2 separate regions of the Homo sapiens genome follow, and region 1 is linked to region 2. Evidence: fine-mapped expression QTL. Tissue or cell type: monocytes after interferon gamma. Region 2 holds a variant in brackets; the other region holds the start of a gene. All regions are shown on one strand. Distances are from middle to middle.

Region 1 (8,188 bases), 200 kb after region 2:
CCTCAGCCTCCCAAAATGCTGGGATTACAGGTGTGAGCCACCACACCTGGCCTCAAAGGTATTATTTAAATTTAAGTTAAAATCCTTTCATGCTTCATCCTCATTCTATTCCCTTCCTATTAACACTCTGGGTGGACATTAATTTTATGATTGAATGGTCATCATGTTACCAAGCAAAGAGAAGATGGAGGAGAAAAGCCAGTAAGTATTTACCAGAATATCTCAATATGTGTGCAACGTTGTGTGACTGAATTCTTAAGTCAAAGGGAAAAGGATTATCCTTTGTTTTGGACTAACAACATGTCTACCTTAGGACAGCAAATTAAAATCTGGTCATACCATGTATTTGATTTTTTTCAAATATTAAAAAATCAGACTATAAAACATATAAACAAGAGTCCCTAAAACTACAAAAGAATAATAGGACCTTACACTTTGTAATAAAAAACTAAATCTGCAGTACATTAGTGCCTTGAAACCTAAACAACACATCAACAAATAAGACTGCACTGGGTGATATGTAGAATTCTAGAAAATGTAATTCAGATTCCAAGTGAATTGTTACAGTTGGATGATGTCTAAAAAACCGCTCTGTTGCTAATGGATACCCTTCCATTCAGTGCATACGTAACTCTTTGAGGGGGTTTTAGGTTTCCCCAAACATAGATAACAATGAAACAGCATTTTGCTTTACCCCAAATCATCAAAAAGACAAACTGAAACAAGTTAATGGCAGAAGCCACAACCATGTAGAAAAGTGCAAATTTCAAAATGTTCTTCTCTTAACTGAGTGCTAGGGGTACAGAGCTGTCACCTCAGTAGCAGAGGGAAAAGGTTACTTGTAAAAGAAAAAGGTATCTACTCAGGTCTGGAACTGTTGGCAAGAAAATCTTTCTGAATGTAGTTCTTTGAACTCATTCATTTAGATAGAAAAAATCTGCATCAAAATTTTTTCTCCCTGATACCTTTACATAGAAAAATACTCAACATTTAGAATTTCCTACCTCTCTTCACTTGAGAGTGTTATTAGACTTAGGTGCAAGAAAGGAAAACTTACCGAGAATGACTTAAGTATAAAGCTTGACGATGAATATCTTCTGGGTCTATTTCTACAGGATTTATTACAGCTAGTTGATCAATAGACCATCTAAATTTCCCTGGAGTCTTAACAAAAGAAAGTGAGCTTATGAGTAAAGGCAAACTAAAATAGTTCATCAAAATGCTAACCTATGTGAGAAATAATATGAATGGTTATAATATGAAAATATTTTAAAGCTTGTATTTTAAAATTTGACTTTACCATGAAATTAAATGGCAAAGGGTAATCATATCACATTCGATCAACTGACTTAATTGTATCTCTCTCTCTCTTTGTTTAAGACAGAGTCTCGTTCTGTCACCGAGGCTGGAGTGCACTGGTGTAATCTCAGCTCACTGCAACCTCCACCTCCCCGGTTCAAGCGATTCTCCTGCCTCAGCCTCCTGAGTAGCTGGGATTACAGGCACCCGCCACCACACCCAGCTAATTTTTGTATTTTTTTTTTTTTTTTTTTTTTAGTAGAGATGGGGTTTCACCATGTTGGCCAGGCTGGTCTCAAACTCCTGACTTCAAGTCATCAGCCCACCTTGGCAGTGCTGGGATTACAGGCATGAGCCACAGCGCCCAGCCTGTATCTCTTTTAAAATATCAGAATCTTTCACCTGGGTTGGAATTACGTAATACGAGAAAAATCACAACAGAGTAATAAAGATATAAAACTTTCACAATTAACACTCATCAGTGTGATAAACTAAGCCCATGTAAAAGTAAAAATCTCTCACAGTTAACAAACGTCTTTACTTTCACTAAGAAGGAACTGAAATTAAAGTCCTTAGTCACTTTGGAGGTGGCTGCAAAAGCTCACAACATAGTTGATCCTTAAAATAATTATGAATGGCAACCAGTGCTGCCTTTCTGTACTCAACCATGCAACTGAATTAAAGGTTTATCCAAATCCTAATCTGTAATTAGAAATATATTCTAGGCAAATTCAGTCCTAAAAACGCAAGATGCCATACATTCCAACTTTGAGGATTAAGCTGCCGTCAATCTATTATTTATTTTTAGTAAGACCAAGAGATAAATTTTAATGATTCAATTAAAAATCATAAGGTCAGATTGATGAAATGACTCAATATAAACTGCTCGACCTTCCACTAGTACATACTTGCTCATTGTAAAACCTGTATGAAAGTGTAGCAGAAACAGCCACCCTATTTGCAGTTTTTCTAAGTAACTTGGTAGGTTGAAAGATCCAAGGTCAAAAGAACTTATCCAGTGTAGCAAATAACAGTAAAATAAGATAAAGTGGCCCGGGCATGGTGGCTCATGCCTGTAATCCCAGCACTTTGGGAGGCTGAAGTGGGTGCATCACATGAGGTCAGGAGTTCGAGATCAGCCTGGCCAACATGGTGAAATCCCATCTCTACCAAAAAAAAAAAAAAGATAAAGTGATGAAGCCTTTTCTAATATCCTGAAGAACACTTTTCCTTCATATTACTATTGTCCTAAGTACTAATCATATCACCTATCACACTGCCTTGATATTACTCATCTAGTTCTGTTTAACACATTAAAATAGGGGTTAGTTTCTTTTTATAATAGATTGCAAGCTAAGAATTATTTTGACAGTTTCAAATGGTTGGGAAAACAAACAAAAAAATATCTTGTGACATGTGAAAATTATATGAAATTCAAATGTGTCCATAAATAAAGCTGTATTGGAACAGAGTAACATTTATCTCTTTACACATTGCCTATGGCTGCTTTTGTGATACAAGACAGAAGTGAGTAGTTGTGACAGAGACCAAATGACCTGTAAAGCTTAAATATTTACTGTCTGGCCCCTAACAGAAAGTTTGTGACCCATACATCGGAGTATAACCTCCTTAAGGATTTGTGCCTAATGATCCTAACTTGTTCACAGTGTAATCCCTGCTTAGCACTGTATCTGACACATAGCAACACTCAAATAATGTTTGCCAAATAAGTGAGAACAGAATATTAGATGATGCAGCTTCTTCTCTAATGTATTAGTAGCTATATCGTCAACCACAGAATGTAGCTACACCCACAACTGCAGGAAGCTAACGTATGTTCTTGAACTTAAAAAAAAAAAAATCTTCTAGCTAACTTATTAACCTAACCACTAGATTATAATGAACACTACAATTTAAAAAAGTATATTGCAGCTATATATGCTCCATAATGTATTTCCTCCTTACCTTGTAAAGACAGATGTTTACATTTAAAATTATTTGTAATTACTTACATTTAAAATTAGTTGTAAACACTAGTCAGGAATAACTTACTGGTAATTTTGTTGATTTAAAAACAGAAGGACTGGCGAGAGTTTGTTCATGGAGATTAGAATAATCACTAGGACTTTCAAAAGGATTTAAAACAGGGATCCTTCCTGGAGTTTCTGGTGTTATTTGCATCTTTGATTCCTTGACATCTCCCATAGCACAGAGAGAAAACTAAAAAGAAATCAAGAGTATGCATGTTAAAATTACAAAGTCCCATAGATATTAATTTTAACTATTAAAATGTACTCGACAAATGTGTCACAAAAAACAACTCAAAACCTCACACTCTTGGGGCTATGATACAGCTTACAAAAAAAGTATCACATATAAATGTTCTCAACTGATCCTCGAAACAACCTTGAAAGCTATAGCAGTAACTTACTAGTGATATTATTTTGCGAAAGTATTAAGCTCAGAGAAGTGAAGTGGCTTATACGCAGCAATCAAATATGAATGAATTCAGATCTGCCTCTGAGGAAACTAAAGGTTACAACAGGCCCAGATCTCTTCTCAACTAAAGGACTTATAGCTACAATTTTTTTTAAATTCATCATCTCATGTCTCAACACTATGAACATTCTTCGGATACCCTATCCAACTACAGTTGCTATTAAACAATTCTTTGTAGCAAGCAGGTAAGAGATGAGGAAGCTTGTGCCTTTCTTGCACATGAGTCCTAGCCAGAGAAGTATGATTGACAGGGGCTAGGAAATTAACTGCCTGGGGTCCCCTTTCCTCCAAAAATCCTCCTTTCGCCAAGACCTCCCCTCCACCCCTCCCGGGATAGAAAGGGAGACTGCATTACTTGCAATCAAAGGAGGCTACAGAGGCTACACCTTGGCGGGGTGGGGTGGAAAAGAGTCTACTTCTGGAAGGTTGAGATGCAGCCGGCTTCCCTGGATGGAGTGCGAAGGAGGCGTCGCCCCCAACCCTACGTGGCCACTCTTTCTGGTGCCCCTCTCTTCCACACCTACTCCCTGACTGCTCCCATTCACCAGGGGCGAGCGGGCAGGCAAGTCAGGAGCTGGGAAAAGAAACCTCTCCATTCAGACAGGAGGAAAGGCCAGGGACCACAAAGAGCGTACCTACCGGTGCGTACAAAACGAAGCCCCCAGTACCGACTCCAGGGAGCTCCGGGGGCCAGGCCAGCTTCCACGACAGGCATAGACTCTTTAACTCCCCGCTTCCGCGCTGTCTTGGGCCAACCAGGGCACGGGGCTTGTGAGCGACTAGCCAATCGTGTCGTCCCGCCATCCGCGAACCAGCCAATCGCACGGAGGCCGCGTAGGAAATTCGAATGGCAACTCCTCGCTCCACGTTCCGCGCAGAGGAACGTGGCTCCAAATTCAAATCAACGCAGCCTCACGCCGGCGGCGAGCGCGAGGGGCGGAGCCTGCCCGGCGTGGGCCGAGACGCGCTGTGTGATTGCCTCGGAGAGAGGAAGGCGCTCCAGTTCCGGGTCAGGCCCTTCTCCCGCCTCCCTCGGCCTTAGCCATGGCGAGTAGCAGCGGTGCTGGGGCGGCGGCGGCGGCCGCGGCGGCGAATCTGAATGCGGTGCGGGAGACCATGGACGGTGAGTTTCCGTTGCGCTCCCTTTACCTTGCGTGCCTTCCCAGAGCCAAGGCCCCCAGGCGGGAATGAGCCTGGGGAGGACTTCAGGTCCCCTTAGTGCCCCAAACGGCATCTTCCAAGATCTTTGGTAGGGACCTGCCAGGGCCGCAGGGCTGATGGCCCTATCCCTTGAGAGTTGTCTCCGCCGCTGCGTAGTTTGTCGCGCGCGCTAGGCGTTGCGGCCCCTAGTCAGCCGGTTGCGCACCGCGTCCCTCTCGCGCGAATGCCGCGCCCCCTCTATCCCGCATCCCAGGTCCGCCCTACCCGCCCGATCTCCTGCGGTGACAGCGTCACGCCCACCCCACCCAGTACACCCGTTCCCTCCTGCGTGCCGCGTCCCACCCGATTCCCGCCCGGGGCGCTTCGGGGGTCCCCAAGGTTGGGATCCCGGCGGGGACAGGGGCCAGGTGTTTGGTCACCGCTATGCCTCCTGTTCTTCGCACTTAAGTAGGCACCTTTAATATCCGGCGAATGAACAAGTTCCCCTTTGGTCATAATTATCCTAGTTTCCTCTTGAAGCGGGTGACACCAGTGCCCAAGTGCTATGGTGTCGCCTGTTTTCGGCCCCGGAGGCACGTGTGTGTGAAGCCTACACAAGTGTTGCAGAACACGAAATTTGTGTCTTGCGGTTACCCTCTGTCTACCCTCTAATGTCGGTTCTGCCACTTTATGCCCCTGTGGTGAGCTTGGACTAGATACTTAAACATCATTGAGCCTGTTTAGTTTTTTTTTTTTTTTTTTCTGTAAAATAAAACCCTACCTCCAGGAGTTGTGAATATTTAAATAAGACAACCATGTAAAAACATATCAAAGATGATCAATTATTTTTATATTATTTCAGATGGCCTCTCTCTTGTAGTCTTCTTTCTTTGTCTCCTTTTTACTCACATCCACCTGTATTATGAGTGTTTGATCGATGTTGTTATTTGCAGTGGGCCTAGACGTTTTCCAGGGTCTACTCACGTCAGCTTCCGTCTCTGTTAAAAGATAACCCTATGAAATTCTCACTGCTGTATCTCTCTCTCCTTCACCGTAGGCTCTTTTTTTCTTTTTTGAGACACAGTCTTGCTGTAGTTGCCCAGGGTGGAGTGCAATGGCGCAACCTCGGCTCACTGCAACCTCCGCCTCCCGGGTTCAGGCGATTCTCCTGCCTCAGCCTCTGGAGTAGCTGGGATTACAGGTGCCCGCCAGAACACCCGGCTAATTTTTTGTATTTTTAGTAGAGACGGAGTTTCCCCATGTTGGCCAGGTTGGTCTCGAACTCCTGACTTCAGGTGATCCACATGCCTCGGCCTCCCAAAATGCTAGGATTACAGGCGTGAGCCACCATGCCCGGCCTCATTTTCTTATGTAGCACTTGCAGAGGGGCTGCTGGCTTTTTCTGCACTGGTCCTGGTTTTCTTTTCAAAGAATTACACTTTTAGAGCCTTTGCATCTAATTTTTCACTTGTTCAGTATCTACCTTGCTGTTTTTCTGAGAATGTTACTCTTAATATTCAGCTTATTTTTCTATCCTTTTCGATGTATCAACACTTAATAGTTTTATTTTGTAAGTGGATTTATGTATGAATATATATATGTGTGTGTATATAAATATAAATTTACTGTCTTGTATATTTCCTTGGAAAAAGGTAGAGTATAAGACCTCACTTCTAGCCTATTTTCTTAGGTTAGCTGTACTTAGGTTCCTTATGTATATGGCCACAGGATCCCATTTGAACAGAAAACTCACATTTTCTCTGGTGGAATCACTGATGTACAATTGAGAACTGATGGTTTGTGTTGGCTGCATCATCAAGATCTCTTCTGAGAAAACTTGGTGTGAAATGAAGATTATAAAGAGAGTAAGAACACAAAAAAGTGAAGTAAAACAAAAAATGAAGGAGAGGGGATGTGGTGTTACACAGTATTTAAATCAACCCGTGAGATCAAAAATAAAATTTTCAAAACTTTTTGAATACCATTTCTCCCCTCAATGGTAGCATTTGTGAACCTCCCTTTAAGTCATGTGAATTGCAGAACTCTTGGCTACATTTGCATTTTGATCATGAAATGAAAGGATTTTGTTAAAGACATGGAAGGAAGCAGGCTAACTTTCTATTAATAAATTATCTGTGCACCTCACTCTGAAAAGAACTATCTCTGCCAATTTAGAATAAGGTCTGCATGAGATCTCTGCTTTCATCCTTATATCCCTAAAATTCTACACGCTTAAAATAGTCGTGCCTTTTCAACAACACCCCCCTCGCAACCCACTGTGTATGGTTGCCTCTTTTGCTTTTCAACTTTTTGGTATGTTAGGTACTCTCTATTGATTGCTTTTTATACCTTAATTTTTATTTTCCTCTAAAATCGTCCTGTGCATCTGAATTTTAATTTTGATAATTATTCCTTATGAGAGGCTTTATCATAGCACTATTTTTTTTTTTTTTTTGAGACCGAGTCTGGCTGGAGTGCAGTGGCGCGACCTTGGCTCACTGCAACCTCCGCCTCCCAGGTTGAAGCTGGGGATGGGAACCAATTCTCCTGCCTTGGCCTCTGGAGTAACTAGGATTATAGGCGCCCGCCACCACGCCCAGCTAATTTTTGTATTTTTAGTAGAGACAGGGTTTCACCATGTTGGCCAGTCTGGTCTGGAACTCCTGACCTCAGGTGATCCACCCGCCTCAGCCTCCCAAAGTGCTGGGATTATAGGCGTGAGCCACTGTGCCCGGCCTGTAGCACCACTTTACATATATATATGTGTATATATATATATATATATATGTATATATATATATATATTTAGTAGTAAGTACGGGTGCCTGTAATCCCAGCTACTTGGGAGGCTGAGGCAGGAGAATCGCTTGAACCTGGGAGGCGAAGGTTGTCGTGAGCTGAGATTGCGCCACTGCACTGCAGACTGGGTGACAGAGCTAGACTCCATCTCAAAAAAAAAAAAAAAAACACGTTATAGAGAAAGGAGTTAAGAGAATCTATGGTATATAGATTCCATTTGACTAGCACTGCAAGGCAGTACCAGCGAAACAGTCCATGCTACCACCATCAATCCAGTTGCACATTTGAGAAAGAAATCTAGAAGTCAGTCTTGCTTTCTCACCTCCTCTGCCTCCTGTTCTTCACTAAGCCCTTTCAATTCTTGACTCATTTCAGGTTGGCTAAATATCTCCTGTTCATCCTACCCACCAGTCTTTTATCAAAATTGTGATATAACTGGACTTTTTAAAGA
Region 2 (8,188 bases):
TCATACAAAGTTAATTATACTTAATTATAGGAGCATTTAACACTTAATTTCTTACATTTTCTCCCAACAATTTATAGACGTGTGTTCACATTTAGAAATTCTTTCTTTTTATTTTTGAGACTAGAGTTTCCCTCTGTTGCCCAGGCTGGAGTACGATGGCACGATCTCAGCTCACTGCAACCTCCGCCTCCCAGGCTCAAGTGATTCTCGTGCCTCAGCTTCCCAGGTAGCTGGGATTACAGGCATGTGCCATCATGCCCAGCTAATTTTTGTATTTTTAGTAGAGACAGGGTTCCACCATGTTGGCCAGGCTGGTCTTGAACTCTTGACCTCAAGTGATCCCCCTGCCTTGGCTTCCCAAAGTGCTGGGATTACAGGCATGAGCCAGTGCACCCGGCTTCTTTATTTTTAGAGATGGTGGATCTTGCTTTGTAGCCAAGGCTCAAACTCCTCAGCTCATGTGACTCTCCTGCCTTGGCCTCCGAAAGTGCTGGGATAATAGGCATGAGCCACTGCATCCAGCCCACATTTAGAAATTCTTATTTCAATTAACTGAAATGCTCAGGAAGGCATGTATTTTAATATTTTACTTTTAAAAAATATTTTTGAAAATTACTGTGAAATTAAAGGCAACATGAGGGATCTACAATATATTAGCAAACAGAGGTTTGTTTGTTTGTTTATTATCTTTTCTGCTTCCACCTAGCAGTGTGCTGGACTTGGCTTGCAGCAGCTTGTAGGAGTTCTCTATTATTTCATACAAAGACTTGTACATGAATGTTCATATGAGCTTTATTCCAAAAACTGGAAATGACTCCAATGTCCATCAACAAGTAAATGGATAAACAAACTGGTACATCCACACAAAGAAATTACTCAGCAATGAAAAGAATGAAGTACAAATGAATCCTGAAAATTTTTAGGAATTTTGTGGGCTGGCTATCAAACACAACTAGCATTAAAAACTAAACTAAATTATTTAAATTTATAGTAAAATACATTTTATTAAAAACAAAGGTAAAAACAATCAAATTTGTCAATTTAAAATTATTTTACTATTATCTGTGCTCTTGAGTTTACCTATGTCTGTTGTATCTGTATGGTGCAAACATTAAGTACTGGTATGCTGCTGACAATCTTTACTCCATCTTCAGTAACCTTAGGTTGGTAGTTTGAAGTCAGCCATGGTGGGAGTATTTATAAAAGAGATACAAGCCAATGTTACAAATCAAGCTCTCCCTCATATCCCTCTTGGAAAGCTGGCTGTTAACATTTACCAACACACCACTGTGTCAACCCCAAGCATTAACTATGTGTCAGGAACTGCAATAAAATGAAGTATTTCTGGTCTTTCGAAATTTGAGGATAAAGATCCTCCTAATGTTATAGTATGAAAAGACACTCTAAAGAATATAAACAGATCCTTAAGAAAACAAATAATAAACAACATATATTAATGTTATTTAATGTATGACTTGAAAAAACCCTTTGTTATAAGAGAAATAGTTTTTAAAACTTTTAAAATATTAACTTCTTGGCTGGGTGCAGTGGCACATCTCCAATCCCAGTACTTTCAGAGGCCCTAGGCAGGTGGATCGCTTGAGCCCAGAAGTTCTAGACTAGCCTGGGCAACATGGTGAAACCCTGTCTCTACCAAAAAAATACAAAAATTAGCCAGGCACAGTAGTGCGTAGCTACAGTTCCAGCTACTTGGGAGGCTGAGGAGGGAGGAGTCCTTGACCCTGGGAGGCAGAGGTTGCAATGAACTGTGATCATGCCACTGCACTCCAGTCTGGGCGATAAAGCCAGACCCTGTCTCAGAAAAAAAAAAAAAAAAAAAGAAAGAAACAAAGAAAAAAACGGAAAAACTTCTTATGTTGACACTCAGGAATATTAAATAAATAAATAAAAGGAACATTAGCAAAGTAGTACCTCCGGTTTAAATTGTTTTATGACTCGCATTTCAAAAGTACAGAAAAATAAAATTAGATCTTGACATCAGAAGATGATTAAAAATGCTATGTAAAATGCATACATATATATATATATATATATATATACGTAGTTTAAATGACATAAGGCTAAGAAAAAGAAGCAATATGAGCCTGATTTTCTAAGTGTAAACAAAGTTAAATTTAACAGAGGAGTGATTTCTCATTAAACACAGAGGTAAAAACCAAATCTATCTTAAAAATGATTAGTAAAAAACTTAAAATGTCACCAAAGTTTGCCAAACCTGTTTTACCAGTTGATATTCTCAGAAATCAAAGCTCTGTCTGTCTAGTCTGCATTTATACTTAGTCTGGGCATTTAATCTCCCTTTTGTTCTCAGTTTTGCCATACACTGTAAGTTGTTTTTTATGGCCTTAACATTCAGTTAGTTTCATAAATTGTGAAATCATTTTGTACTAGCAAACAGCTTATTTTAAAACTGCTTAGAAAAATAAAAGAGTTACAAACAATTAAAATGAATACTGTGATTCTTCATATGGGTTTCTTTAAGTTATTTACCTCTTGTGAAAGCTGTGTTACTTGGTCCTTTCGATGTTCCAGATCTTTTAAAATCAGCGAGTTTTGTTTTTCTAATTGAAGCACTCTTCTTGCCAAGTGAACACTAGGCAAATGAAATAAGAAAATTAATGCTTAAAAGTGAAATACTGCCCAAAATATTCAAAATGTGTTTGTGTACTTGAAAATAGACATCATTTCCTAATTATACTTAAATATTAACAGAAAAAATATAGAGTCAAATAATATTTTCAGGCACCAGTAGTGGAAGACCAATACCCCACAACTCAGAATTATGAGAGTAACAACATTAAAACATAACCGTGATAGACTGATTACTGCAGTAACGGTTTTTAGCCCTTGCTATAAAAGTGGAGAGGTAACATTATAACACTTGCTTGAAAAGACCACAATACAGCAATTTACAGCTTGTCTCCACTTTTATAAATATTTTCCAATTACAAATCAGAAAATTAGTTGAAATATTACAAACAATAATTAGCTTATCACTTTGAGAAGTATCAGAGTTTACTTTAAACAACATAATGCATGTTATAATATAAAACAAAAATGAGGTTTTTAATTGAAAGTGGAGATGAAAAAGATATATAAAACTTAGAGAATGTCTATAGTAAAGGCTAAGCTTCTG[T/C]ACTAAAAGAAAAAAATCACTCCCTCTGATGCTCTGCATTACCATAACTTATTGCACTGACCTTTAGTATTTAAAATTACATATGAAACATCTCAATTCTACTTTTAAGAAACAATTTTAAGAATAAAATCTATTCCTTCTAACTATGGTGGGAGGAAGTGGTATATTTCTTTAAAGAACTGCTAATAATTTTGAGAAGACATATTGCTCCAAAGAACCTCTCTGCATTTCCAGTAACTTAACATTTTCATATTTATCATATTTTCATATTTTATACTAGTTAACCTATTAATCTGTGAATTGCAGAATCCATGGAATCCTAGATGGAATGTTTTATAATGACAAAAAGTAAGATAACTGTGCTTTAAATAAAATCATAGGGCAGAAAAAATTCTATTGTATTTTAATATTTCCCAATATCAGATAAAGAAATGCAGACAACATTCTAAAAAATAATGTTAAGGCCAGGCGCGGTGGCTCATGCCTGCAACCCCAGCACTCTGGGAGGCTGAGGCAGGAGGATCACTTGAGGCCAGGAATTCAAGACCAGTATGGGCAACAGGGTGAGACCCTGCCTCTGCAAAAAATACAAAAATTAGCTGGGCATGATGGTGCATGCCTGTGGTTCCAGCTACTTGGGAGGCTGAGATGGGGGGATCACGTGAGCCCAGGAGTTCGAGGTTACAGTGAGCTAGGATTGTGCCACTGCAATCCAGCCTGGGGTGACACAGAGACCCTGTCTCTAAAAATAATAATAATAATAAATAGTGTTAAATATCATTCTATATATCTATTTCTAAGAACTCATACCAAATAAAAAAGATGAGTTCTGGCAAAAGTTTATAAAGTGATTTGAGTTGCTTGTTTAGATCTAAAATTCTTTCAACTGGCATTAGAGATGGAAAAAGCATACAGTCCTCATTTTTTGACAACCACTTTTTTTTTAAACTTTACTGACATACAATTTTACTGATATGCAACTTAAATATCATAAAGTCCACCAATTTAAAGTGTACAATTCAATGATTTTTAGTATATTTAGAGTTGTGCCACTATCACTATAATCTAATTTTAGAGCATTTTCATTATCTCAAGAAGAATTTCTGTGTCCATTACCAGTCACTCTCCATCCTCCCCACATTCCAACTTCCTCCTTTGCTCCTCAAATTCAACCTTAGGGAACCATTAATCTTTCTCTCTTTATAAATTTTTAAGGAGTTTACAGTTTATGACTATATTGTTCTTCATTTCCCAATAAAAATATACTAAGTTCTCTCTAATTTGACCCTAAAATAACAAGATTTCTACAAATAAAATAAGCCTTAATGTGAATTTTGCATTTAAAATCCGTTGATTCCATTATACGTTTGCAAGCATCAGTTTATCATTAGCTCTATTTTTATTAGGTTAATTAAAAAATCTTGGAGCTATCTTTATTCACATTTTTATTCTTGCTTTCTTACTCTTCATACATGTTAGGTGTTAACTTTTTTTTATCTTTTTGTGTCCCACAGAACTTCACACTAGGGTCACTTAAACATGGTAATTTTTCAATAAATATGTTGAAGGTGTAGAACAAGTATGTGTATACTCAGTATAGAACAATAAACACAATCAAATGCAATTACACAGAACTAGAGTTACAAATGAATGAAATGGAAGACAAAGACATGCAAGAAAATGAGATGCAGAGGTCACATATTACCAACAATCTGAACAAGATAATGACTTGAAGACATCAAGTTTAATAATGTTAAATTGTTCATTTGGTTTGAGTGCTTTTATTTTGTTTGGGAATTCTATAATGTTCTTATACAGATAGGGTGATACCGCTTACCAATAAAAATATCATAAGTCATAAAACACTGACTCAAGAAATTCTTGCCGGGTGAGGTGGCTCACGCCTATAATCCCAGCACTTTGGGAGACTGAGGCAGGCAGATCACCTGAGGTCAGGAGTTCAAGACCAGCCTGGCCAACATGGTGAAACCCTGTCTCTACTAAAAATACAAAAATTAGCTGGGCGTGGTGGCAGGCGCCTGTAATCCCAGCAACTGAGGAGGCTGAGGCAGGAGAATCGCTTGAACCTGGGAGGCGGAGGTTGCAATGAGCTGAGATGGTGCCATCACACTCCAGCCTGGGGGACAAGAGCAAGACTTCATCTCAAAAAAAAGAAATTCTTGGTATGCTAGTGCTTAAGCCTTAACACCAGGACTACTTTCTTCAAAAAGGAATTTCCCTGATTTTGACTGGGAGATTCCAAGTAAGGAAAATCAACTCTAAATAGAAGGAAAGTATCTAAGGTATCTTCAAATTGCTTACAAATATACTCTACAGTGCTTTGATTACTAGTTTATAGTACAATTTTACTGAGAAAAACTTTCTGAGAATTGATGGTGACGGGAAGGACCGTGAGTATTAGTATGACTGTTGATGTCATTTATGATGCATAATGATAATAATGTAGAAGACAACATGGTACAATTGGTCTCCAGTATATATGGGGTTCACATTTTAAAAACTCACCTCTAAGTCAGTTGTAAGAACAGTAAAACACATTTCCTCATATATATATGTATATATATATATATATATGTATATATATGTATATATATGTATATATATGTGTGTGTATATATATATGTATATATATATATATGTGTATATATATATATACACACATATATTAGAAATGGTATTAAAGTTCTCAGTTGCCCTAAAAGACCCATTTAGCCCACTAATGTAGTACAAACACACATACACAGAAAAGAACAAAAGATAATATAAAATCTTTCATTAAAAGATTATACTCAGATTTATTAAGATTGTATTATTAAGGATATAAGAGATTATATTAAGATTTAATGAAAAGAAATATAAAGATATATTTAAGCAAAAGAACACAGCAGAAACAAGAAATATAACTGTTTTTCATCATTATAATACTTACAGTAAAACAAAAACAGTAAAAAAAAATTAGGCCAAGGCAGGCAGATCACTTGAGGCCAGGAGTTTGAGACCAGCCTGGCCAACATGGCAAAACCCCACCTCTACTAAAAACACGAAAATTATCTGGGTGTGGTGGCACACATCTTTTTTTTATTTTAATTTTTATTTTTGAGTTGGAGTCTTGCTCTGTCACCAGGCTGGAGTGCAGTGACGCGATCTCGGCTCACTGCAAGTTCCGCCTCCCGGGTTCGCGCCATTCTCCTGTCTCAGCCTCCTCAGTAGCTGGGACCACAGGTGCCCGCCACTAGGCCCGGCTAATTTTTTGTACTTTTAGTAGAGACAGGGTTTCACCATGTTAGCCAGATGGTCTCGATCTCCTGACCTCGTGATCCGCCCACCTCGGCCTCCCATAGTGCTGGGATTACAGGCGTGAGCCACCACGCCCGGACAGTGGCACACATCTTTAATCCCAGCTACTTGGAACGCTGAGGCACAACAATCTATTGAACCCGGGAGGCAGAGGTTGCAGTAAGCAGTGAGCCAAGATCGTGCCACTGCACTACAGCCTAGGCAACTGAGTGAGACTCTGTTTCAAAAAAAAAAAAAAAGGAAATTACTATTTTTTCTTGGTGATGAATATCAATGACTGCAGAAAAGCAGGGTGAATTAGAAGAAACACACTCATTAATTCATTCGAAAAATATTCATGAACACTTCCTTTGAAGAAACATGTATTAAAAACCTATAATCTGCATAGGCACTGAGAATACATAATATCTACTGGGAAGATCTAATAGTCTACTGAGGAAGACAGGCAAATTTAAAAATTACTGTAGTATGCTAAATGCTAAGAAAAGGCATACCACTAAGGAATAAAAACTATACTAACTAATCTGGTGAAGAAGCAGAGAAACAGCATTTTAGGTAGAGGGAAATGCCTATGTAGAGGATGAAGTGCTAGGGAAAATTCTAAGTAGTAGAGTATAGATCAATAATATATGGTGCATGGTGAGGGTTGAAGCTAGAGAGATATAGGCAGAGATATTTTATGAAAAGCCTTGTATGTTTGGATTTTATCCTGAAGTTGGTTAGACATAACACGATCTGGCCCGCACTTTAGAAAGAGTGCTCTATCAGTAGTGTGCAGGATGGCCTGCAGAAGGAAGAAGACTACAGTCATTTAGAAGGTTATGATCATAATCTAGACCAGTGGTCTTTAAAAGTAGTTATGTGCAAAATTATTTCTTGAACTGTGGGAACTTTTACTTACATTTATTTTAATGTTAAATTATCTTAAGTTTTCATTTGCTGTGTAGGTTTTATATCATTATGTGCATACTATTCATATGATAGCACATGCGTACATAATCTATAAATAAATATGAATACATATGCATATATTGCTGAGTGTGTACTCAAATTTTTTCCCAATAAAAATTCGTATCAAAAAGTTTGGAGACCACTGGTCTAGGTCAGCTTTGTCCAATGGAAATATAATGCAAGCCACATATGCAATTTAAAATTTTCTAGTAGCCACATTAATAAACAGTACAAAGCCCTTACCTCATATGATACCAAAAAATTAATTAGAATGGATCAAAGACCTAAATACAGAAGCTAAAACTATAAACTTTTAGAAGAAAACATATGAGTAAATCCTCACAAAATTAGATTTAGCAAAAGATTCTCAGGGCAGCAAAAGCATAAGTAACAAAAAAAATTGGATAAACTGGACTGCATCAAAATTTTAAAATTCTGGGCTTCAAAATGCACCATTAAGAAAGTAAAAAGATTTTAACCATTTCAGTTTTGTCATGAAAAAGAAAAACAGGGCCGGGTGCGGTGGCTCATGCCTATAATCCCAGCACTTTGGGAGGCTGAGGTGGGCAGATCACTTGAGGTCAGGAGTTCGAGACCAGCCTGGCCAACATGGTGAAACCCCGTCTCTCCTAAAAATACAAAAATTAGCTGGGTGTGGTGGCAGGCGCCTGTAATCCCAGCTACTTAGGAGGCTGAGGCAGGAGAATCACTTGAACCCGGGAGGCGGAGCTTGCAGTGAGCTGAGATTCCACCACTGCACTC

Alleles and levels. Positions count from the first base shown, and alleles are read on the strand shown. Sizes are in standard deviations (SD) of each study's normalised expression.
For the expression in monocytes after interferon gamma of the gene that starts at base 4,522 in region 1, allele C in region 2 goes with a lower level than allele T (large effect, 2.1 SD a copy in Fairfax 2014).

The links. PIP is the estimated chance that this variant, and not a neighbour inherited with it, causes the effect.
Region 1: it holds the start of BORA, and the variant in region 2 is fine-mapped to the expression of BORA in monocytes after interferon gamma (Fairfax 2014, PIP 0.95). The same link has a PIP of 0.9 or more in B cells, NK cells, monocytes and monocytes after LPS.

Annotation. Positions count from the first base shown.
Region 1 is chr13:72,724,257-72,732,444 of GRCh38, reverse strand. BORA (BORA aurora kinase A activator) reads right to left here and starts at 4,522. Exons shown (of 12, transcript NM_024808.5): 1 at 4,438-4,522; 2 at 3,352-3,519; 3 at 1,058-1,164. The coding sequence starts at 3,504. MZT1 (mitotic spindle organizing protein 1) reads left to right here and starts at 4,816. Exons shown (of 3, transcript NM_001071775.3): 1 at 4,816-4,921. The coding sequence starts at 4,843. RefSeq lists enhancers at 4,241-4,290, 5,011-5,080 and silencers at 4,501-4,650, 5,174-5,355, 5,311-5,370.
Region 2 is chr13:72,925,591-72,933,778 of GRCh38, reverse strand. It overlaps PIBF1 (progesterone immunomodulatory binding factor 1), which reads right to left. Exons shown (of 18, transcript NM_006346.4): 14 at 2,512-2,614. Among named protein-coding and RNA genes, the nearest start is that of KLF5, 130 kb to the left of the region's middle. The variant T/C (reference allele first, on the strand shown) is at 3,158.